Linked DNA regions of Homo sapiens. The protein of the gene in region 1 interacts with the protein of each later gene in a pairwise test. Each region holds a gene or a part of one and is shown in the gene's direction. Other genes may lie near its edges.

Region 1 (7,035 bases):
CGCCCAGGACTGTGTGCAATGGGGGCTACACACCAAGACGAGATGCTTCCCAGCACCCGGGTAGGTCTGCTCAGGAGCCTCATGCTGGAGATGGAGGGTCAGGGCCCTGCCATCTGGCACTGCCCTGTGTCAAGCGGGAGGGGCAGCAGCTGGAGATGGGGTTCTCAAGGCCATGAGGAGGTTCCTCAGAGGCCTCTGGGCTCACTATGAGCCCCTCCCTGCGGAGCCTGCTGACTCTGCAAGAGACACCCGCTTGGGGAGAGCAGGCTGATGCATCCCTTCCCCTGCCCTCCAGCCTGGTGCCAGGGAAAGGAAGCGTGCAGGAGCCCTGGGCGCCGGAGGACCTCCCACAGGGACTGGGGATGGAAGGGTGGAGGTGATGTGGGTATCTGTTGGCTTGGGAAGGGGTGGAGACTGTCCCATTCAGGCCCAACAGGCTACCCAGCAGGAGGTTAGAGAGGCAGTTCTAGATCCCAGTCCAGAGGTCCTGGGAACTCCTGGGTGCAGGCCAGCCCTGAACATGTCTCTCCTAAAGTGACATCCTTTATCAAGCATTCCCCTAAGACAGGTGCTGTGTAAAGGAATTTATTCATTTAACAATTATCCAGCCTGGGCAACATAGCAAGACCCTGTCTCTATCAGCCTGGATGACACAGCAAGACCCTGTCACTTAAAACACACACACACTGAGAGGCTGAGGTGTGTGGATGACCTGAGGTCAGGAGTTCGAGACCAGCCTGGCCAACATGGTGAAACCCCATCTCTAATAAAAATACAAAAATTTGCTGGGTGTGGTGGCGGGTGCCTGAAATCCCAGCTACTTGGGAGGTTGAGGCAGGAGAATCACTTGAACCTGGGAGGTGGAGGTTGCAGTGAGCTGAGATCGTGCCACTGCACTCCAGCCTGGGCAACAAGAGCAAAACTGTCTCAAAACAAAAACAAAAACAAAACAAAACCAAAAAAAACACCCACACAATTATGGAACACCCAGAGCGTGCTGGACACTGTAAAAACACTTTACGAGGCTCACCTCGTTTAACCCCTCGATATCCTGACAAAGTAGGGGTGATGATGACTGACAGCTTCCCAGTAAGGAACCCCATTCGCAGAGATGTTCAGCCATAGAGGCTGAGCTGCAATTCACACACTTGTACATCTGGCCTCAAAGCCCTTATTCTGCTGCCCTAGCTACTTAGAGGCTAACACTTATGGGTAAGTTGAGGACTCAGTCACAACCATGTCTGGGGAATGGGTTTCTGACCTTCACTGAGAGCCTCTCGACTGTGTGCCAGGCACTGTGCTGGGTACAGTCACACACGCTAGATGTCACTGAATCCTTGTCACAATGACCCTTGTTTTACAGAAGTGGAAACTGAGACACTGAGAAGGTGACTGATGTACCCCAGGCCATGGCAGCCAATAGGTGGTAGAGCTGGGGTCTGAATTCAAGTCTGTCCCCTCTAAGCCCAGCATCTTTACTGCCACACCCCAGCTGGGATGTCCCCTGCATTCTCTACAAGTAATGATTTCCAGACCTTATTCTGAAAGCACTTAGGATAGTCCCAGGAAAGAAGGATGGGGGTAGGGCCAGGCACGGCATTCTCAAGATCAAATCCATTTAAATTCACTTAAACAAACAGAGGCCCGTGGTGCTCTGAGTCATCCACTCAAACAAACAAGGCGATGTTGAAACTTTGAACCCACAGAGATCCATGCTCTGAGGAGCTAAGGGACACACAGGTTCAGGTGGAGACCCCTGCCTTTCACTAATGCTCTCCTGCACGCACCCAACAGACCCTGCGTGGTATCAGACCTGGCCAGGCCCTGGGAGCAAGCCCTCTGCAAGCACAAAGATCCCTGCCTCCCAGCACACCCAGAACTGGTCAGCCACGTGGACCAAGGACAGCAAGCGTCGGGACAAGCGCTGGGTCAAGTACGAGGGAATCGGGCCCGTGGACGAGAGCGGCATGCCCATTGCCCCCCGATCCGTGAGTCCAGGGCTGGGGGCCACGGAGAGATGGGGCCCAGGGATCTACAGGGAGCTGCACTTCTGTGCATTAAAATGGGGGTGGGGCAATAAAGGCCGCACCCAAACCATCCCAGATTAAGCAGGGGTTCAACCGTGGTGGGGTTCAGCGGCTGTAAACCTCATAAAGCTGCAGACACCCTCGTGTGCCTGAGTTGCTCAAGTGGTTTGTGCGGGGTACAGATCTAGAACTCTCATCAGGGCCTCAAAGGTAGAGAACCCCTGCTGTAAGGCCTGAGGCTGCAGGGGACCCTCTCTTAGTTTCATATCCCCAGGGCCTGTCACGACGCTCATGAAATGGTTGCTGAATGAATGACTGACCGGCCGAATGAGTGAGTGAGTCTTGTGTGAGAAGGTCTCTCACTGTGGCAAGCGTGGAAGGATCCGGGGGTCCAGTTAGGACTGGGGATACCCTGCCCTTTTCCATCCACCTTTGTGTCTTGAGCCAGCTCCATTTTCTCATCTGGAAATTGGAGCTGGTAACATTCCCTTCCTGTTTTGAGGCTGTTTTGAGGCTTGGATGAAGCAGGTGATGTGAAACACGCATCTCACTCCTACATTATTGCTGTCATTTTTGGCCCAGGTGCAGTGACTCACGCCTGTAATCCCAGCACTTTGGGAGGTCAAGGCGGGAGGATTGCTTGAAACCAAGAGTTCCAGACCAGCCTGGGCAACATAGTGAGACCCTGTCTCTATAAAAAAAAAAATAAAATAAAATTAGCTAGGCAAGGTGGTGCACGACTGTAGTTCCAGCTACTCAGGAGGCTGAGGCAGGATGATTGCTTGAGCCCAGGAATTGGAGGCTGCAGTGAGCTATGATCATGCCACTGCACTCCAGCCTGTGTGACACAGGAGACCCTGTCTCCCCACAAAAGAAAAATGTTCTTTGTAGAAACACTAGACATAAAGAAAAGCAAAGAGAAAAAATGTAAATTGCCCCAAATCTCATAACATCATTATTGCATACACTTCGATGGAGATCTTGTCATATATCTTACTTATATAGGACGTGTTACATGAAGCTATTGTTATTAAAGAGATCGCAAGAGAAGCATTTCCCAGCCCACCTATGGGGGGTTCAGGGATGGCCAGAGAAGGGACTCACTAGGGAAAGATTTTTGTGGCTTGAAATTGGGAGGGTGAATAAGCAGGGAGGACTGACTTTGCATTTTCTGATCCCAGAGCGTTGACAGACCCAGAGACTGGTACCGGAGAATGTTCCAGCAGATTCACCGGAAAATGCCAGGTAAGATACCCTTCCAGGGCCCTCTCCCTGCCAAAGTGGATTCTGGCCCCTGGGGCTTGGAGAGACAGGGAAAGAAAAGGGGACTTAGCTGCTCAAGGGGTTCTTCTCCACCTTCTCCCAGGCTCTAATGAGTAGTCCTGAAAATAGGCAGTCCCCTCCCTGTACTCGGGGCCAGCAGCGGTCTCCAGAGCATCCCCAAGAAGAACATTGACCAGCCACTGTCCCACAGTGTCCTCTGAGGGGACTGAGAAGCCATTCCTTTCCTTAAGTCCCTCTCTGATTTCCCTGCCAAGCTGGAATGCCACTGTTAGCGGTCATTCCCTTACTGGAGGCATTGCTTTCTTCCACAACTCAAAATGCAGCCAACCCTGGGGGTGCCTATGAGCTGGCTCCGAGGTCACCCATCCATTCAGTGAGTCCTTGACCATCTATTGAGCATGTACCACATGCTGAGCACTATTCTAGGTGCCAAAGATCAAAGGAAGTCACACAATAAACAGACACACCTTTGACATGACAGATGGTGGAAAGGGCTAGGGAAAAATAAAGCCAGACTGGGAGAGTGCCCCATGCAGGGAGGCTGCTCCTTCACCCAGGAGCGGCCAGGAAGGTCATTTGTAAGCGGTGTTTGATCAGACCATGGAGGGAGTGAAGGAGTCGGCCTGGCAGAGCTGGGGGAAGCATTCCAGCAAAGGGAGCTCCGAAGACCCAGAGGTAGAAGCATGTTCTGGACGGGCAAGGAGAGCCTGGCCTGGAGCGAGGAGCATGTGGTGGGAGATGGAGTCAGAGAGGTGGTGGTGTCAGGGTACGTGGGGCCTTGTGGGCCATTATAAGGACTTCAGCTTTTACGGTGCAAATAAGGAGGAGCCACTGAGCGGAAGAGTGCCATGCTCTGACAAGTAATGGCTGAAAAGATTGTGCCTGGCTGTGGGGTGGGAAAGGAATGGTGGAACCAGTTCCCTTGCCTGGTAAGGGCTAGGGAGAAAAGGCCACCTTTACAACTTTGCTTCAATCCAGGGGAGAGATAATCGTGTGTTAGACCAGGGCGGTAGCAGTGGCCCTGGTGGGACAGGATGAGACTCTGAATACACTGCAGTCACTGGAATTTGCTGATGGATTGGACGTGGCTTGGAAGAGAGAGTCAAGGATGGTTTTAAACCTCAGCAAGTTGAAGATTGGAGTTGCCATTTGTCAAAACAGAAAAGACTGTAGGAGTAGCATTCACAGGCCGGGCGCGGTGGCTCACGCCTGTAATCCTAGCACTTTGGGAGGCCAAGGTGGGTGGATTGCCTGAGCTTAGGAGTTCGAGACCAGCCTGGGCAACATGGTGAAACCCCATCTCTACTAAAAAATACAAAAAAGTAGCTGGATGTGGCGGCATGCACCTGTAATCCCAGCTACTCGAGAAGCTGAGGCAGGAGAATTGCTTGAACCTGGGAGGCGGAGGTTGCAGTGAGCTGAGACCATTCCACTGCACTCCAGCCTGGGCAATAGAGCAAGACGCTGTCTCTAAAAAAAAAAAGAAAAAAAGAAAAGAGGTGTTCAGTTTTAGACACATGTTCCCTCTGAGTGAAGAGGTTGAGTAAGCAGATGAATATCCAAGTCTGCAGTTCACGGGACAAGGTCTAAAACTGCAGATGGAAATACCTGGGACTCATTCAAAAGAGATTTTGGGACCAGCCTGGCCAACATGGCGAAACCCTGTCTCTATCAAATATACCAAAATTAGTTGGGCATGGTGGTGTGCACCTGTAATCCTAGCTACTCCAGAGGCTGAGGCAGGAGAATTGCTTGAACCTGAGAGGCAGAGGTTGCAGTGAGCTGAGATCACCCCACTGCACTCCAGCCTGGGTGACTCAGTCTCAAAAAAAAAAAAAAAAGAAGAGAGAGATTTTGATTTAAAGTTTCCCCAGTAATTCTAGTGGGGAAACTTTAAACTTTTAACTAGCAGCCAAGATTGTGAAACATGGGAATAGATGGCGTTTTAAAAGCCTTAAGACTAGCTGGGTGTGGTGGCACACACCTGCAGTCTCAGCTATTTGGCAGGCTGAGGAGTTCAATTCAATTCCTGGGAGCCCAGGAATTCAAGTCCAGCTTGGGCAACATAGCATGATCCCGTCTCTGAAAAACAACAATCCATAAGACTAGACAAGATCACCTAGGGAGATAGAGAGACAAACAGACCCCAGGACTGAGCCCCCACGCACCTGGATGCTTAGAAGTTTGAGAGATGAGGCGGAACCAAAAAGGCAACTGAGAAGGTAGAGCCAGGGAGGTAGGAGGAAAACGGAGAGATCTCCCTGGGGCCAAGTGGAAAGGGAATTCCAAAAGAAAAATGTGACCAGTGGTGACAAATGCAGCTGATGGGTTGAGTAAGATGAATACTTAGAATTGACTGTCAGATTTGGCAACGTGGAGGTCACCAGCATCCTTGATAAGAGTGAGTGGTTGGGCAGTGGTGAGCAAAAGCCTGTTTAGGGAGACGGGGAGTAGGGGGATTGGAGATGGTGTGGTCTTTATGGTCACTGGTTACAGTTTACTATGGGGGAAAGCAGACAAATCCAGGAGTCAGAGGAGGGTGTGGGGTCCAGTGAGGGGTGATGTGGCTGGCGTTTAGGCAGGTGCCGTTGCAGCGCATGCGTGTGTGTGTGTGTGTGTGTGTGTGTGTGTGTGTGTGTGTGCGCGCGCGCACGCGCCGTGGGGAGCAGTGGGTCAGTAGCTCTTTCCAGGAAGCCCCAGAAATTCCCAGGCACCTTGAGGAGCTAGGAGTGGGTCTTGGCAAATGGGGAAGGAAAGCGTTTGGAAGAGGGTGCAAGTCGAGTTTCCCCAGCCTGAGTGGTGAGGGCAAGTCCACAAAGGTCAGGAGAGGGTGTGTGTGGGAACAGGGAGGGAGGAGCAGGAGGGCTTGGGCAAGGCGGCTGCCCGCTTGGCTCGCTTAGGCCCCAAGCCTGCCAGAGGCATTTCAAGCCCTCCAGAGAGCTGCCCTCCTAATTCCTTCCCTCCCTTGGGACATTCTTCAGGCCCTGACTCAGCCCTCAGCCCCCTACTCTAGGGATGTTGGGAGCGGCTGAGGTTGCCTCCCAGGGCACCCTGCCCTTGCTTTCTGCCCCGTCCCATGACCTGGTCCCTTCTGCTCCTGCAGACTTGCAGCTGGACTGGACCTTCGAGGAGCCACCCAGAGGTGAGGGGATGCGGGCCCACCTGCCTGCCATAGCCCTGCGCCTGCGTCCGCCCCTCCCTGGGGCTGGGACTCGCAGCCCCGCCTGGCTTTGGGGCTCTCCAGTTGGCTCAGTTCAACCTGAGAGGTTTTTATAGCTCATTTCCAGAGCACTTCAAATCCCCCGGTAGGTGGTAATTAACAGCCTCAGCTTGCACGGGGAACGCGCGCTCTGCCACTCCCTGGCCGGGATTTCTCTGGGCCTCCCTTTCCTCATCTATAAGATGAGATCATCACCTACTCGGAGTTGTTTTGAAGATGTAGTAAATGTCGTAAAGCTCTGAGGGCAATGCCCGCGTTCAGTGTCCCTGAGCACCAACCACCCTGCCCCCACCATCCACCCAGGAGCAAGGGGGTGGTGCTGAAACTCTAAATAATCACCCAGGCACCCTCAGCCCCAGTCACGGCCTGTCTCCTCCCACCTTCAATGCTTTCCTCGTGTACCTCCTCTGCAGACCCCAGGCATCTAGGAGCCCAGCAAAGACCTGCCCACAGGCCCGGCCCGGCAACATCTTCCAGTGGGTGAGCACAGTGGGGCGGGGCCGA
Region 2 (3,061 bases), 3.2 Mb from region 1:
TGGGGGCTTGTCTTTGATAATTCTTCCTGATAATCAGGATTGTTAATCACATTTCATTTATCTTAGAACCTAGTTCTTCCTTAAATACTCAGGGAACCCCACTGGGGCAGAGAATACGGGAAATGCTAAAACAAAAAAATAAAAGCTGTACCCACATGGATCACATATGACAGCAATCCCCAAACTTTGTGACACCAGTTTCCTGGATGACAATTTCTCCATGGACTCAGTGTTGGGGGATGGTTTCAGGATGATTTAAGCACATTACATTGATTGTGCATTTTATTATTACATTGTTATATATAATGAAATAATTATACAGTTCAACATAGTGTAGAATCAGTGGGAGCCCCGAACTTGTTTTCCTGCAACTAGACAGTCCCATCTGGAGGTGATGGGGGACTGTGACAGATCATCAGGCATTAGATTTTCCTAAGGAGCGCACAACTGAGATCCCTCCCATGCACAGTTCACAATAAGGTTTGTGTTCCTATGAAAATCTAATGCTGCTACTGATCTGACAGGAGGCAGAGCTCAGGCGATAATGTGAATGACAGGGAGCAGATGTAAATACAGATGAAGCTTCACTCCACTGCTCACCTCCTGCTATACAGCCCAGTTCTAACAGGCCACAGACTGGTACTGGTCCATGGCCCTGGGGTTGGGGACCCCTGACCTATGAGAATTCATAGGCCTTAAGTTAGAATTCAAGCCCTGAAGGGAAAGGAGTACCTGGTCACATGTAGATAAGAAAAATGCCTTTTAAGATGATCATAAACCACAAAAGCTTTGTGTAAATCATGGGTAGGCAGCTAGTGATGTCCTCTGAGGAAGTAGGAAGAGCATGTGGTCACTACTTACACTATCTGACCCCGTGCCTTCTGATTGACAGGAGGAACCCATCACTTCCCTGGGGAAGGAGCTCCTTCTCTATCCCTGTGGTCAGCAGGACCAGCTGCCTGACTACCTGGAGCTGTTTGAGTGACAGCCTCCATCAGGGTCATCCTACAGCCTCCAAGCGGGCTTTCCCCTGGACAAATGCCACTGCAACATTTATGTGTGAAGCCAAAATCACCCTGCAGCAGAGCCAATACTGATCAACTGAAAGTAAAGTATCCATGGAGTCCTCATTGACACCTCTTTTCTGCACAAATACTGGAATTCAATGTCAAGAGAAAATGACCTCTGCTCAAAAGGGAGAAGAGTCTCAATTTCAGCAAGTACCTGTCATGAAGGGTATGACCTTAATGATGTACATAAAATAAAACAAATGAAGAAATGGAAAACTTTTAGAAATTAAGGTGTACTTGAAAACGAATATCTATCATATGACCCCTGCACTCCCTCTGTATCATCTCAGGAGGTTTCAGGGGCCTGTTGACATGAAGTTTCGAAGTTTCATGTTGGCTTTGGAATGGTAGCAAAAGCCTTTCCTGGCTGAGATGATGCTTAAAACACACCTCACTTATTGTACATGTTGGAACCAGGACATGAGAGACATAGAAAAACAGAAGTCATGAATGTAAATTGAATGAGAGGCTTAACATGCATGAAAATACAGATGGACCTGCAGGAAAGTGAGCAAACATCGCTGAGTTTGTTTTCTTGTTCGGGAGAATGGGGCCGGGGCTGGCCTGGCCTCCCCTGGATATACTCTATAGTGCACCAAAAGGATAAAGCATCTGTACATGTATTTTTTTATTTTTTATCAGAAGTGCTTAGACAAGAACAGAATAAGCAGGCTGTTTGGATGCTACTTGTGGTTGAATTGTGTTCCCCCAAAATATATGGTGAAGTCTTAACCCCCATCCCCGTGAATGGGACCTTGTTTGGAAATAGGGTCTTTGCAGATATAGTCAAGATGAGGTCACATTGGATTAGGGTGGGCCCCAAATCCAATGACTGGCATCCTTAGGAGAAGAGAGAGTTTTGGTAATAGACACAAATGCAGTGGGAAGAAGACCAGGGGACAAGAGGCAAGTTGGAGTGATGCAGCCGGAAGGGAAGGGACACCAAGGATCTCCGGCCACCAGCAGAAGCCAGCAGAGAGGCATGGGACAGGTTCCCCACAAGCCTTAGAAGGAAGCATGGCCCTGACTTCAGAATTCCAGACTCCAGAACTGGAAGAATAAATGTCTGTTGTTTTAAGCTGCTTAGTTCATGCTGAGTTCATGCTGACTTGTTACTATAGCCCCAGAAAGCTAATACAGTCGTTTATGTAATTACATAACCTGACACACAAGATCGACCCATTCACTGCTGCCCAGTCCACCATTTTCATAATGAAGTAGAAATGGGAGGTAAGAAAAACATTCCAGCCAGTTCTGTTTAGCCCTGGCACACATATTTGTCCCGTCAGGAATCTTATGCCCTCCTGGAACCCCCGCCCACCTCAGTCCAGTCCCAGTCAGGCGAACGGCCTCTGGACAGGGACTGAGGTGGCTCTGAGCCACTGGAGATCATTTTTCTTGGAGGATGGAGATTGGCTAGTACCTCTGGCCTAACTGTGTAGGTCAATACTCTTTTACATTGCCTTCTAATAAAAGCAGAATGATACAGCAGTGTTGTTACAAGCTTGTTGGTTGCGTACAGCACTCATTGACTATAAAATGTAGCCAGAGAAGGGGATGGTTGGCATGTGTGTTCTAATGAGAAAGATGATGGTGATTATTATTTTTAGAGACAGAGTCTTGTTCTGACACCCTGGCTGGCATGCAGTAGTGCGATCACAGCTCACTTCAGCCTCAAGCGATCCTCCTGCCTCAAACCCCCAAAGTGCTAGGATTATAGATGTGAGATACTATGCCAGGTAGAGATAGCTTTTAAACATAGATCATTGTTTAACTCTTTCTTGAAATGTTCCATGTGGTTTATATTGTTAAACTATTGTAAGGATCCATCTCTTGGCTTTTGTTCCTATGATTCAACAGTCATGGCATTATTGAGAAACTTCTCAACTCTTCCTACCATTTTCTGTATAATCTTGGACAGGACAGTTTGTCTCTGAGCCTCAGTTTTTGCTTCTGAACAAAAAAAAATATGATTCAACTGGGTGATCTTT
Region 3 (7,716 bases), on another chromosome or scaffold:
CCTTCCTCTCTCGTTCCTGCCCGGCCTTGCCCTTTGCTCTCAGCCCTCCTATGTGGGCACCGGGCTCCCCAGCCAAGCAGGGACCCTCCTCCCTTTCTCTGCAGGGATCTACAAGGGCTTCTGTCTGGATGTGATCAGGAATAAGTACGAATGTGAGCTGCAGGGAGCCAAACAGCACCTGGAGGTGGGCCTGATTGGGCACACTGGGGGTGAGGCAGGGCACAAAGCCTGAAGTGGCCTCACCCCATCCGTCCTGCTGAGCTATTGCCCCCTCTTCCAGAGTGAGAAGCTGCTGCTCTATGACACGCTGCAGGGGGAGCTGCAGGAGCGGATCCAGAGGCTGGAGGAGGACCGCCAGAGCCTGGACCTCAGCTCTGGTAAGCGCGAGAGCCTGGGCACCCCGGAACTGGGCCCCGCTCAGTCCACGCCCACCCCTCTTTGGGCTTCAGATGTCCTGAAGTCAAGGGGACAGCCAGAGGACCTGCCTGTTGGGGTCAGTGTGAGGGCTGAAGGAGACCAGGCCTGGAAAGGGCCTGGCACATAATGGGGGCTCAAGCAGAGTGGGTCTCCCTGCCTCTTCTGCCCCTGCTCTTTCCAAAACAGGTATCAGTGTGACATGCAGTCACATGCAATAGCTCTAGTCCCCTCCATGTTCATAGTACCTGTGTTCACGTGGAGTCCTGGGGTGGCAGGAATTGTCGTCATCCCACTCTCCACTAAACAGATGAGGCTCACAGAAGTGCAGTGACCTCTTCCCAGGGTTGTGCAGCTGTGCAGGCAGGACCTGAACAGCCCTAAGGGGCTTCTACCCCAAGCCCAGGGTGGTGATGGGACAGGGGAGATGAGGCCAGGCCGGCCCATGGTGGAGGCAGAGGCTACAGAAAAGGGAGTATCCTGTGGGCCAGCACCCCAATTCTAACTCTGGGTCTCGGGGCAGAATGGTGGGATGACAAACTGCACGCCAGAGGCAGCTCCAGGTCTTGGGACTCCCTGCCGCCCAGCAAGAGGAAGAAGGCACCTCTGGTTTCTGGTATCCTTTCACCCAAGGTGGCCTAAAAGTGGGCAGGATGTAAGGGTCAACTCCAGACCCAGGGGAGGGGGTTGGAGGGGACATGGAGGACAGTCACACTAGATGCACTCGTGGTTGCTTGGTGTCATGTGAATATGTCCAGGCAAATCCAGCTGTCAGCAGTTTCTTACGGGGTCCTGGGTCTCTCTGGGCTATGTGAACCCTAGGAAAACAGAAACGGGCTGGGCTCCGTGGCTCACATCTACAGTCCCAGCACTTTGGGAGGCCAAGGCGGGTAGATTGCTCGGGCCCAGGAGTTCTTTTCGAGACCAGCTTGGGCAACATGGTGAAACCCATCTCTAGAAAAAATAACAAAAATTAGCCAGGCGTGGTGGTGTGCACCTATAGTCCCAGCTACTCTGAAGGCTGAGGTAAGAGGATTGCTTGAGCCTGAGAGATCAAGGCTGCAGTGAGCCGTGATGGTGCCACTGCACTTGAGCCTGAGTGAGGTTTGGCCTTTGAGGCCTTTCCATCTCCCGGGGTTGTCCGAGCGGGTCCCCAGCTTTCCCTGGGGAGCCTTTGCTCATATCCCACCCTCCTCTTGGAAGTCCTGCCTGTCCCGACTGTCCAGGGCTCATCTCAAACGTTACCTCCTCTGTGAGGCCTCTTCTGGTCTTACCCTGGTGCCTATGGCTTCACTTTCCTGTGTGCTTCTGTGCCCTACCATGGGGTACCCACATCCCAGAGGGCACTGGCTGCCTCCACCCCTTCCTAGGCAGGGCTAGCTTAAGCTTAGTCCAGGGCCTGCTGTGCTTTCATCTGTCCTGGCAGAGCTGAGTCCTCCTGCACCCCTGAGGGTATTCCTGCAGCAGCCAGTCTTAGTCATTATGGCAACCTGGTGCTGGAGAGCAGGCCCAGGCAGGGAGGGAGGAATCTGGAAGGCCATGACTTGAGTGAATGGAAGGTGAAGGCATGGAGACATCAAGTAGGGAGCACTGGGGGAGGGAGAGTTGTCTCTGAAGGGATAAGCCCTGCGTCTGTCTTTGGATCAGGGAAGGGGCCAGGTTAGGGCCAGTGCTGCAGAGTGAGATGGGATGGGCCTCAGCCAGCTGACCTAAGACGAGGTGAGGGTGAGCAAGGGACAGGGAACAACATTTGGTGTCCTCCATAGACTTGGTTCCAGGACGACCCCTGGAACCAGGGGGTTAAGAGGTAGGAGGTGGAACCTGACCTCGGACCCAGGTCCTCAGCTCCCACTCCATGCTGTCCGCTGTACCCCCACTCCTGAATGTCAGGTGGGTGGCCCTGCCCTCGTCACCTGCCACCTCCACTAGGCTTCCTTGACCCCCACCACAGGCCCATACATCGTGTACATGCTTCAAGAGATCGACATCCTGGAGGACTGGACAGCCATCAAAAAGGTGGGGGCCGCTGCTGCCCACGTGACCTGCCCCACCTCAGGGCCCCCCACCCTGGCAGCAGCTCTGCCATCTGCAGGCCTGGGAGTTCTCTGCTCACCAAGGCTTCCCCATCTTCAGCCCAGAGTCCCTGGATCGCAGTTGGCTCACAAGTCCTCTTGCTCAAGGCGGCCCTGGGAAAAGGGATTTCTAGTCTGTGTCAGCCCCTTCCCGTTCTGGGGCAGGTTTTGATGGGGTGGGAGGGTGGCGGGGAGGCGGGAGAGCCGCTGAGCTGGCCAGCAGTCAGGAGCATGGGAGCTCTGCCTGGGTGGGGCCTATGCTCCCGGTCCTGGGGGCACAGCACTGAGGCAACAGCCCACAAGCCACAGAGGTGGGGGGTGGGGCAGGGATTGCCAAGCTGGAGGTGGGCTCTCAGGGGAGCTTTTCTTCTCACCCACCCAGGCTAGGGCAGCTGTGTCCCCTCAGAAGAGAAAATCGGATGGTAAGAACCATGGCTGTTGCATGGCCTTCCCTGCCCCCTTGCCATCACCTTTCCTCAGCTCAGCTTCCAGGAAGGAGCCCAGAGAAAGGCTGTGACTGTGTCAGAATCAGTGGCTCAAGAAAGTTAGGATGGTCTAGATTTGAGGGGCTTGTGGGAGTTTGAGGAGCAGGAACCAGGATGGGGCTGGGGAAGCTCTGGGTTGATGGAGCTCCCACTCAGGAGGGGTCAGGGAGGGCTGTGGAGCTGCCCAGGAGGCCTGTTCTGGGCCAGCCCAAAGCCACTCAGTAAGTGGCTGCCTCCTTCCTTTCAGCTTCCTAACTGGTGACAGTTTTCTTCTTCCCACATATGCACAGGACCTTGACCCTGCTGTTCACAGCCAGGGGGACCCTCAGAGCAGCTGGCACTGCACCCAGGATTCTCGTCTTCCTCCTGCAGACAGGCGGACCCACAGGCCCCTCAGGGTCTGCCCAGCCAGGCTCCTGTGGTGCTGCTGGGCCCTCCCACTCCATCTGGCACTGGCCTGGACTCCTCCTCTGCCCTCCTCGAGGCCTGCACAGCTGTGGCCGTGGAGCTGACCTGACCAGGCAAGGCTGCTGTCTCCATCCCTGAGCCGCCTGCCACCTCCCACTCCTGAAGATCCATCTCTTGGGGCTCCCCTGACAGAGAAGACAGCCGAAGTCAAAGCCACATCCTCTTGCTGATGTTGGATGCAGGCTGTCCGGCCTCAGGGCCAGGGAGCCAGTTTCCACTGTGCGGGAACTCTGAGTCAGACGTGATTATCTGGGGGTCTGTCCACCCTGGCTGGATCTGGAGGCAAGATGCCAGGCCCCCCAGGTGTTCTCAGGGCAGTTCTTGGTGTCTGCTTCTCAGATTCCAAGGACTGGAATTAAAACCTTTCCTGGGACTCTGGCGTGCCCTGTGTGTGTGTGTGATTTACCTTGCAAGAGAATCAGGGCTCCCGTGGGGAGCACCTGAACCAGGCCGACTTCTAGGGTGCCTGCAGATTGCCACTCCTCACACTACCCAGCAGAGGCTAGAGCACTGTGCGTGGGGCCAGGCTGGGGAGGGGGAGGTGGGCGCTGGGCTGCCTGGCGCTGGGCAGAGTCAACATATGGCACCGGGAGAGTGCCTCGGCGGGGAGGGTGGATGCGTGTGCTTGGAGCCTGGGTCATGTCTGCACCTGTCCCAGTTGCCTGGCAGATTGGCAAGGCAGGCTGGCAGAGCCTGCGTGCGTGGGAGGCAGCCGGCAGCACCGCCATGTGCTGACGACCTCACAGCCAGACTCCCCCTGGTTAGCACTGAGTGTCAGAACCACCCCCAGAACCTCAGTTAAGCAAATAGGTTGGTTTCCATGGAGACATGGCATATTTTCTCCATGGCAACCTAAAATCCTAAAACCCAGGTTCAGGAATGAGTCATCTATGGACAGTAGAGGGTGCTCTCCCACAAGGCTGACCTGAGGCCAGGGGCAGATGAGCAACTGACCACAGAGCCAAAGGTGCCCCCAGAGCATGGCTGGGGCCTGTGGGGACTGAGGCCGCTTAACCACTTCCCGCCCACGTGTGCAATGTGAGTAGCTGGTGAGGCTGCAGGAGGCCGTGTGTGGAGGTGGCATCCCCCAGCTGGGGCCCTCAGAGCAGGGCTAGCATGGAGGGGACCCCTGACCCCCAAAGCAGGGTCCAGAACAGAGGAGGCGGGCACTGGCCAGGCAGGGTGGACACACAAGAGTTAACTGGCGGGTGTGACAGGCGGACCGCCCTCAGGAAGTGTTACTCACTGGGGATGTGCGTGCCTTGCCTTGGGACTGGATTCTCTTCCTGAAGCGAAGGAGCTCCCAGCCATGGAAAGCCCTGGAGAGTCAGGCGCGGGCTCTCCTGGAGCCCCCAGCCCGTCCAGCTTCACTACTGGGCACCTGGCGAGAGAAAAGTTAGTGAAGTTGGCAGGGCAGCCAGGTGGGGCAGGGAGGGGCTGCGAGAGGAGGGCCTATCCGGGGATAGAGAAAGTGGGAAACCCGGGAGTGGGGAAGAGGAGAGCAAGGGTCCCAGCCCCTGGCTCCCTGCTCAGATCTGGGTGCCTGCCCCCAGGCCAGCCCAGGACCCACTGTATGACGTGCCCAATGCCAGCGGCGGGCAGGCAGGCGGGCCGCAGCGGCCGGGGCGCGTTGTGAGCCTGCGGGAGCGCCTGCTGCTCACCCGGCCCGTGTGGCTGCAGCTGCAAGCCAACGCAGCGGCCGCACTGCACATGCTGAGGACCGAGCCCCCGGGGGTGAGTCTTGCCCCACACTCCAGGGACTGGCCAGCCAGGGGTGGGAGGGAGAGGGATGGGACGCCAAGGTCCTGAGCTGCCTGAGCCCTATCCACTTGCAGACGTTCCTCGTGCGGAAATCTAACACCCGCCAGTGCCAGGCCCTGTGCATGCGGTTGCCTGAAGCCAGTGGCCCCTCCTTCGTCTCCAGCCACTACATCCTGGAGAGCCCTGGCGGTGAGGGGCTGGCCTGGCGGGAAGGGGCTGGAAGCAGGGAGGTTCCCCAGAGAAGCACCTCACTTCCCTCCTCTCTCAGGCGTCTCCTTGGAGGGCTCGGAGCTCATGTTCCCAGACCTAGTCCAGCTCATCTGTGCCTACTGCCACACCCGGTGAGTCTGCCCGCAGGGTGCCTGGTGTCCACGGGCCCTGCTCCTTGGGACAGCCCATCCTTCCCGCCCTCTTCGGCCCTCACTCCCTTCTGCTCCCCTCTCTGGCCTCAGGGACATCCTTCTCCTCCCGCTGCAGCTCCCCAGAGCCATCCACCACGCAGCCACTCACAAAGAGCTGGAGGCCATCTCCCATCTGGGCATTGGTAAGGGCTTCCTGCCACCCATTGCACAGATGAACAAGCTGAGGCCGAGGGGAAGGCAAGGCTCGCAGCACACCGCCCGAAGCCCCTGCCTTGCCTTGGTTGGGAAACTTCCCCTAACCAGTCCCGGAGGCCCCAGTCGGTTTCTTGTTCCCTAGAGTTCTGGAGCTCCTCCCTCAACATCAAGGCTCAGCGGGGCCCGGCTGGAGGCCCAGTGTTGCCCCAGCTGAAGGCCCGGTCCCCTCAAGAGCTGGACCAGGGCACCGGAGCCGCCTTGTGCTTCTTCAACCCCCTGTTCCCGGGGGACCTAGGGCCCACCAAGCGGGAGAAATTCAAGAGAAGCTTCAAAGTGCGCGTGTCCACAGAGACCTCCAGCCCCCTGTCTCCACCTGCCGTGCCACCTCCCCCCGTCCCCGTGCTGCCAGGGGCAGTCCCCAGCCAGACAGAGCGGCTGCCCCCTTGCCAGCTGCTACGGAGGGAGAGCTCAGTGGGGTACCGCGTGCCAGCAGGCAGTGGCCCTAGCCTTCCGCCTATGCCCTCCCTCCAAGAGGTGGACTGCGGCTCCCCCAGCAGCTCCGAGGAGGAGGGGGTGCCAGGGTCCCGGGGGAGCCCAGCGACCTCACCCCACCTGGGCCGCCGACGACCTCTGCTTCGGTCCATGAGCGCCGCCTTCTGCTCCCTACTGGCACCGGAGCGGCAGGTGGGCCGGGCTGCGGCAGCACTGATGCAGGACCGACACACAGCCGCGGGCCAGCTGGTGCAGGACCTACTGACCCAGGTGCGGGCTGGGCCCGAGCCCCAGGAGCTGCAGGGCATCCGTCAGGCGCTGAGCCGGGCCCGGGCCATGCTGAGTGCGGAGCTGGGCCCTGAGAAGCTGCTGTCGCCTAAGAGGCTGGGTGAGGCTCCGTCTCTCCATAGCTCCAGCACTGCCCCATCCGACCCTCTGCTCCCCTCCACAGCGCCAGCCTGTCTGATTCTGTTCTGCTGCTTTACAAATCCATCTTGTCTTACCACTGTTCGAGAGAGTTCCATCCCCTCTCTCCCCCAACTCTTCCGTCTCACCCAGGCTACCTCCTCCTGCTTTCCTTGCCTCTCCTCCCCGATTCTACCCCTGCTCCCTTCTCCCCTTGCCTCTGCCCCCCATACCCCCAGTCTTCCCCTGACCCCTCCCTGTCCCTCCGGCAGAACATGTCCTGGAGAAGTCATTGCATTGCTCTGTGCTCAAGCCTCTCCGGCCCATCCTGGCAGCCCGCCTGCGGCGCCGGCTTGCCGCAGACGGCTCCCTGGGCCGCCTAGCTGAGGGCCTCCGCCTGGCCCGGGCCCAGGGCCCCGGAGCCTTCGGGTCCCACCTGAGCCTGCCCTCCCCAGTAGAGTTGGAGCAAGTGCGCCAGAAGCTGCTGCAGCTGCTCCGCACCTACTCACCCAGCGCCCAGGTCAAGCGGCTCCTGCAGGCCTGCAAGCTGCTCTACATGGCCCTGAGGACCCAGGAAGGTATGTCCCTGCCACCACCTCACCCTGCCCTGCCCCTTTGAGTCAGAGGCGGGCCCCCCAGCGGCAGGTCCCCAGGACCCTAGAACAGCCCTGCAGGAGAGAATGAGCCCACCCTCCCCTCTTGCAGATGGCGAAACTGAGGCCTAGAGAGGAGCGCATCCTTTCTGAAGCCCCTCAATGGTTGCTAGGGCATGGGGAGGGGTCACTGCCTAAAGCAAGGACTGTACCTGAAGCTTCTTCCTCTCACCATGTCCCCACAGGGGAGGGCGCGGGTGCCGACGAGTTCCTGCCTCTGCTGAGCCTCGTCTTGGCCCACTGTGACCTTCCTGAGCTGCTGCTGGAGGCCGAGTACATGTCGGAGCTGCTGGAGCCCAGCCTGCTTACTGGAGAGGGTGAGGGACCCCCACCCACCTCCCTGTCTGGGTGGGCCCTGAATAAGCAGGGAAGGGGAGAGGGGATGGGGTGCCCCACACCCAGCCTGAGC
Region 4 (6,889 bases), on another chromosome or scaffold:
AGGCCATGTTGCCATGTTTATCTTCAGATTTTTTAACTGCTAAGATAAAATCCATTTGCCTTTTTATTTTGACCCAGTGTTTACAATTAGCTAAGGACACGAGCCTCTTTAGATAGTAATAAATACTCAGCTGGCTGGGCACAGTGGCTCATGTCTGTAATCCCAGCACTTTGGGACGCCGAGGCGGGTGGATCACGAGATCAGGAGTTCAAGACCAGACTGGCCAATATGGTGACACCCTGTCTCTACTAAAAATACAAAAATTAGCCGGGCATGGTGGCATGCCCCTGTAGTTCCAGCTACTCAGGAGGCTGAGGCAGAAGGATCACTTGAACCTGGGAGGCGGAGGTTGCAGTGAGCTGAGATTGCGCCACTGCACTCCAGCCTGGGTGACAGAGCAAGACTCCCATCTCAAAAATAAATAAATAAATACTCAGCTATATGATTCTTATGTCATACTTGAAAGATAGAGTATCTTCTCTCTCATTTGGACATAGAAGAAAACTGAATTTAAAATTTGCCAAAGCCAGAAATCAACTTCTCAGTCTCCTCTCATATCCAGCATTCTTATTTCGATTTTCTTCCCTTGCACTTCTTGGAATTTTGAACTTCAAGGCACTCCACCAGGAATGAGGAGACCTGGATTCTATTCTTGGAATGGCCACTAAGTGGCTTTGTGACCTTGAGCAGATGAGTTACTCTCAGGGCCTCTTCCCTCAACTGTAAAATGAGAAGGTTAGCTAGATGATTTCAGAAGTTCTTTCTGGCTCTAAAATTCTGTAAGTCTGGAAACACCTGCTAGTGACATTTATGCACGCATTAGTTCTCTTTTACCCTTTTTAAAATGTTTTTGATTGTGCCTTAATATTATTATTAATATAGATCTTTTCCATTTCTTTTTAGAATTTTCTTTTTTGTTTCTTGACAGCAGGCAGTGTTTCTACATTTATTTTCCATTAAGTGTTATTATGTACATTTCTTTACATATCTGTTATACATTGAAATAAGATTAGTATGTCATAAGGTATGAATGATGTAATTCTTTCTAAAACATAGGGCAATCATTTGTGAATTTCATATTTGAAGATTTAAATGTTCAAATGGTTTAAAGAAAAACTGCATTACAAAACAAATTGCATTTTTTTCATAAGATTTTCAGTCATTCTGACACCTGCTTGAAAACCTCAGGCAGTTCAAGATGTCTGAATGTAACTGTAGGGCTGAGTATACCAGCATCAGTCTTTTAAATGCATTCATTTTATGTATATAATTGTGGTAAATTTTCTTTTAAAAGTTTTCTTAAAAAACAAAAAGTTTTCAAGGGAAAATATCAAAAGCTGTGCTGAACATTTCTTGACTTTGCACCGTATCACCTAATTGACTTACTTTCTGTCTTTTGGGTATGAAATATGGCCTGGAAATTATATATTTTATATAAATAACATATAATATAAATTATATATATATAAACTTCAACAGAAAAAGTTGGTAAATACTAGAATAAGTGGTAAACTTGGAGTAAACTTTTTGTCAAAGATTTTCATTATTATTTGATTCTGTGTACAATTTAAGATCAGCTTTACCATGACAAGAAGCAGATGAAGCACTTGAATCTGATATACATTGAAATAAATTAGTATGTCATCAGGTATGAATGACATAATTCTTTCTAAAACATAGGGCAATTATTTGTGATTGCCCTGGGACAATCACACTGGGACAGCCATTAAAAGAGATTGAAATGGGTACTACTGAGTGACACTTAGGAAGTATAGTCCAACCTAACATCTCTTGTAACTTAGACACATACTATCTGAATTTTCGATAGGATTTACAAAATAGTCTTAGTTTGATTTACAAGTGATACATAGAAGTTAAGAAGTTTGGAGTAGAAGAAAAGGTAAAGGAAACAATGTTTTTTGTTTTGTTTCTCTGAGACAGAGTCTTGCTCTGTCAACCAGGCTGGAGTGCAGGAATGCCATCTCTGCTTACTACAACCTCTGCCTCCCGGGTTCAAGCAATTCTCCTGCCTCAGCCTCCCTAGTAGCTGGGATTACAGGCCTGAGCCACCACAGCCGGCTAATTTTTTTATTTTTAGTAGACACAGGGTTTCACCATGTTGGCCAGGCTTGTCTCGAACTCCTGACCCCATGTGATCCACCTGCCTCCGCCTCCAGAAGTGCTGGGATTACAGGTGTGAGCAACCACACCCGGCCAGAAACAATGTTAAGACAATTCTGTATTGATGTTTTTGTGCAACTCCCTCCTCCCTTTCCCTCTCTCAAAGAATCTTCTTCCTAGCCTCATAAGCATGGAGGCAGACATGAGCTACCCTTTATTGTGTGCTTGGCGCTATATATATTCCCTCATATTCTTATGGCCTCTTAAAGTAAATATAATTATGTCTTTAAGGAAGAATCAGGGTCTGCAAGATCACACAGATAAGTGGTGGCAGCAGAATTGAAACTTAGATCTCTATGACAAAATTCCATGGTTTGCAATCAGACAAAACAGTTCAAACCCGTTTCCTCCACATGGGTGCATTTCTATGAACTTTTGCATGATGCTTTACCACAATGAGCCTTGCTTGGGTTTTATCAGTAAGATCAGATTATCAGTATCTAGAGACAGAATTGCTCTGAGGGTGAACTCAGATAAAGGTCTGTTCAAAGTACTTAGCACAGAACCTTGCAGAGGGTTGCCCCTCAGTGAATAATCACTATTATTACTATAACTATCACTGTTATTGTTGTTATTGCTGTTGAGATTATGATGTCAGGCTTTCCAGACACAGAGTATGGTTTCATTTGATTGTCCTACATGTATTAAAGTCCTACTGTGAGCAGGTTACTATTACTAAACTTTAGCTCCTCATGAAATGTTTATCTGGAAGCAGGTGAAAATAATGTGAGTGAATATGTATTACTTTAAAGACCACACCAGGGAAGCTCTTCAGACTTGAAGATAAGACCTTATTGTTTAAACTTGTGTATTTGCTAAGTTAGGCAAAAAATTGCTCTAGAGACTTTTTTGACTAAATTAAACCAAATATCATCAGATGCATGTGTGTACAAAGCCACAATAAACCTGAAAATGTCGCTGGGGAGGCAAGATCTCCTAGCATTTCAGAACAGGCTGATTTGATCATGATTTAGAGAGCTTTTCCATACACTTAGGCTGCTTTCTCTTCCTATGGCTGCAGCACACTTTAGTGGAAAATAAGCCCATAGGTATCTCATTTTTGGGGTGTGTGTGTGTGTGTGTTTTGTCCTCCCACAATAAGAAATCTCATCCTTTCCCATGGGCTCTGATTTTCTCTAACGTAAAGACATCGCTACTACTGTAGATAAAAGCAACACACTGTCAGAATCACAGAGAGCTAAGAGGTTGGACTTTATGTTCCATTTCTATTTTATTTGAAGATAGAAGTTTGATAACTTTCACAGATCTTTTGAGAGTGCATAATATATATAATTATGCTACACATATTGTTCTGCCACATCCAGATGCAAACTTCTAAAGGTGCAGCAGAGTACATCCTGCCACCAGCTGAGAAGGAGAAAGAATTATGGAAGGAGGGAGATAATTCTTGCCTATAAAAAAATGAGTTTACTTTCCTAATAAAATAAATCTAAAATTGGCCATTGTCATTGTATGATGTTAACAACCAGCTCTTTTGGCAAGTTTGAAAATACTGGGCTCCATTATAAAAGCTAAAAATGTCCTGGACCTGGAGTTGTTTACCCAGAGCATGAGCTGCTCTAAAGTTACAGAGCTCTGGTTGGAAGAGGTGGCTTGAAGGCCGCCTCCAAGTAACTGACGTCACAGTAGTCTCAGCTGCTGCTGTGACACTAAGCTGAGCAGCTTTTTGACTTGTAAAAGTGGTGAAGGTTTCAAAGGGACTTGTCAGTACTGCTCTGTGGAATGGTTGGACTTATTTTGCATCCCCTTTTCTTGTAAAGAATCGAGATTCACCGAGCTGAGACTTTTCTCTTTAAGACAGCTAGCCATCCACTTTCTTCCACTGCTAATTGACCAGTGGTCGAGCATCCATAGGATTTCTCCCCAGTGTGAAAGGTATGTTTCTTTCCGGCAAGTTTACAAGCAAGTGACTAATTATGGCAGGATACAAAGGGGCTGCTGTTGAGATGTTTTAAACTATGGATACTGTTTAAGTGGAGTGTAATTTCAACATCTGTCTCTGCTGTTGTCTGTGTCTGGGCTTAAAAACAGTGGGCGGGGTGCATAACAGATTGTACTGACTCCTAGGAAAAAGGCTGTTCAGCTGCTCAGGGTGGATTTCCCAACTGTGGACTGACAGTACCATCCGCTCTTTGAGACTGTTTTTCCAACACTGCTTCTCAGTTGTTTGAAAAGCACTTTGCCCATCATTGATTTTCACTAAGTATATTTATTCAAATGTGATTTTTTTTATTCATATAAAGACTTTTAACATTTGCAAATTAAAGGTCACAATCCTGGAGACTTGGTATTTGAAAATTGCGGTGAAAAATAAATTTTAGTTTTATCTAAGGTGGTGGTGGACTCACTGTAGAGTTAGTGTTTCTGTAATTTGAGCTGAAGTCTATGCCATTCATAATTGAATAATCTACGTTTAGGAGGGAAACTTACCACTATGTCTTTTGTTCACGATGGTTAGTTTTAGACATTTGTTTACTCAAACCAAATGTTTGCTTTTAAAGTTTGCATTTTATAAGTAAAATCAGTGTGCATACAGCTTGGATGTTTTCTAATTTGAGTAAATAACTGTAAAGAAAACAAGGAAGAAGATAATTAAATGAAACGGTAAAGTTGATTCATTCGGAATTGCATGTGGTAGTGTCTCTTTGACCTTGTTGGAGCATGAGGAATGTGCTAAATCAGCAATACACAGCAATGAAAAAAATTTCCCTTTTACTCTAACAAAATCAAATCATGGTGGTCTTTGGAAAGATTCAATTGCAAGTGAACAATAGAGAGGAATGAGATTTATTAATTCATTGAAATAATTCAAGTGATTATAATAGCCTGGAGAAAGGGATAGAGAATTTAGGAGGTAAATGGTACATTACTCTGATAGGTTATAAGCTGGGGAATTCCTAATCCATCAAAGTTAAGCAGAAGCAAAACATCTTCAGGCCAAATGAGTCTTCTAGGAATTGTGAGATTAGCAGTACCTACTGTGTGTGGCATTTCTATTGGAATATGTAACCTCTTATAAATGAAAAATCTTTAATTATGTGAAAAGTGATATGTTTAGCAAAAGGAAATAAGGACAGCAAGAAACAAGTACTCTAAACAATAATCTAAAAAGAGAGAAGTAGCAATGGAGCAGCTGCCCCTAAGGAACGCTGTTTAGTTTGTTTGGATGCAGTCCAGTTTTCAATGGGCGAGTTGGAGGTTGAAAGGGTAGTGACCCAGGTGTCCTAAGAATGGAGCACCCCTCAGAGAAAGAATTGCTGCCATGACCAAACTGAGGCTAATTTGGGGGTGAAAATAATTTCTTGTGAGACTTGTGTGTTACTCTTAAACTTTGCTTACTGGTAGGGCCGGAAGGCTAGCAGAACTATTTGCCTCCCATCACCATACTTATGCAACCCACTCACAACTCTTTATAATTCTGGCTTTCAGCCCTGGAAAGGGGAAGTAAGTTAAAAGGGATTATGCAATGCTGGTTTAGAGTTGGGGTGTGTGACTAAGTAATGCAGCTCACTCTGTCCTCTTACATTTGCTCTAATAAATTTTTATTCTGAAATGGAATTCTAGAAGGAAGAACATAAACTGGAGAGCCAAAGAGATATGGGGTAGGGGATGCAGATAGCAGAAATCCTTCCTTCTCTCCCACATAGATGCCAGTATCTGTGGGAGAAAATGAGTGACAACTAGGAACAAAAAGAACTTTTATTTTTGCCCCAGTAGAGAGCACTTAAATTGAGTTTTTGAATCTGCTGAACCACTTTACCCCATAACTTCTCATTACGAAACATTCTATCTCTACAAAGTTGCCCCTTCAGTTTGATATTTTTTGTAATATTTAAGTCAGATTTATAACAAAAGCAGTTTTACATAAGATTTGTTCACATTTTTATTAACAATAAAACTTTTTTCTTTAAATATGTGACATGTATCTTTAAAATATTTGAAAAAAGGCAAAAGAAGATCATGGAGAATATGAGAGTTCACACAATTACACTTGCTTCTATCTCGTTTTAAAATAAAGACCAAAATAATCTGTTTTTTTTCCAGAGAACAACATGGAGAGGGATAGATGGAGAAAGAGAGGAGAAAGGGAAGGAGGGAGGAAAGACAAGAAGAGGAAGGGAGGGAACAAAGGACAGAAGGAAGAAAACAAGAACCAAGTATTTTTCAGGCATTTGCTATGATCCAGAGCAGTGTTTAGGCACTTCTTTTAAGCATTTTTCCCTTTTGCTCACTTAATCTCCAAAACAATTCTATGCCCCCCCCCCACCACTTTATATTTAGAGGTGGAAGCAATATGTTTGGCTGCGTTACATCTAACATTATATTTACGACAAGACTGAGATGCTAAGAAGGCCAAATCCTTCCACAAAAAATTGGCACAGATATTGCTCTATAGAAATGTTCTTGCAAAGGCTTGTTTCTGATCCATAACTATTACATTTCTTGGCACTAGCAATTGCTCTGGGCCTGGAAAGGAAAAGCTCCATACATTGGTCCTTCTCCATATTAAGGGATGAGTTTGGCTCTTTGCAAATAGGTGCAGGATTCGGTCTGCTTCAGGACTGTTACCTGGGTTTAGATATAGTCTTGTTATCAAGAGCAAGACTGATCTAGGGTATTCCTGAATGATCTTCCGGTAGGTTAAAAAGAGAAAGGCCTGGCATCTTTCAACAGTAGCATGGAAGCG

Evidence for each region.
Region 2: the proteins of SORBS3 (region 1) and SH2D4A interact in binary tests that used the Homo sapiens proteins (3 or more experiments, as listed by UniProt).
Region 3: the proteins of SORBS3 (region 1) and RIN1 interact in binary tests that used the Homo sapiens proteins (3 or more experiments, as listed by UniProt).
Region 4: the proteins of SORBS3 (region 1) and KIAA0408 interact in binary tests that used the Homo sapiens proteins (3 or more experiments, as listed by UniProt).

The regions. Positions count from the first base shown.
Region 1 is NC_000008.11:22,554,921-22,561,955, forward strand, and holds part of SORBS3 (vinexin), read left to right. Parts: coding exon 1-60; intron 61-1,794; coding exon 1,795-1,988; intron 1,989-3,208; coding exon 3,209-3,272; intron 3,273-6,414; coding exon 6,415-6,453; intron 6,454-6,944; coding exon 6,945-7,011; intron 7,012-7,035. UniProt on the Homo sapiens protein: Vinexin alpha isoform promotes up-regulation of actin stress fiber formation. Vinexin beta isoform plays a role in cell spreading and enhances the activation of JNK/SAPK in response to EGF stimulation by using its third SH3 domain.
Region 2 is NC_000008.11:19,393,658-19,396,718, forward strand, and holds the end of SH2D4A (SH2 domain-containing protein 4A), read left to right. Parts: intron 1-892; coding exon 893-985; 3' UTR 986-2,561; downstream 2,562-3,061. UniProt on the Homo sapiens protein: Inhibits estrogen-induced cell proliferation by competing with PLCG for binding to ESR1, blocking the effect of estrogen on PLCG and repressing estrogen-induced proliferation. May play a role in T-cell development and function.
Region 3 is NC_000011.10:66,333,435-66,341,150, reverse strand, and holds the start of RIN1 (ras and Rab interactor 1), read left to right. Parts: upstream 1-4,716; 5' UTR 4,717-4,748; coding exon 4,749-4,834; exon of another isoform or gene 4,835-4,860; intron 4,861-4,992; coding exon 4,993-5,173; intron 5,174-5,274; coding exon 5,275-5,389; intron 5,390-5,468; coding exon 5,469-5,541; intron 5,542-5,652; coding exon 5,653-5,744; intron 5,745-5,899; coding exon 5,900-6,637; intron 6,638-6,926; coding exon 6,927-7,232; intron 7,233-7,492; coding exon 7,493-7,624; intron 7,625-7,716. Other genes in the region: BRMS1 (breast cancer metastasis-suppressor 1), read left to right, coding at 105-184, 281-377, 938-1,030, 2,366-2,430, 3,262-3,483. UniProt on the Homo sapiens protein: Ras effector protein, which may serve as an inhibitory modulator of neuronal plasticity in aversive memory formation. Can affect Ras signaling at different levels. First, by competing with RAF1 protein for binding to activated Ras.
Region 4 is NC_000006.12:127,456,363-127,463,251, reverse strand, and holds the start of KIAA0408 (uncharacterized protein KIAA0408), read left to right. Parts: upstream 1-3,862; 5' UTR 3,863-4,077; intron 4,078-6,889.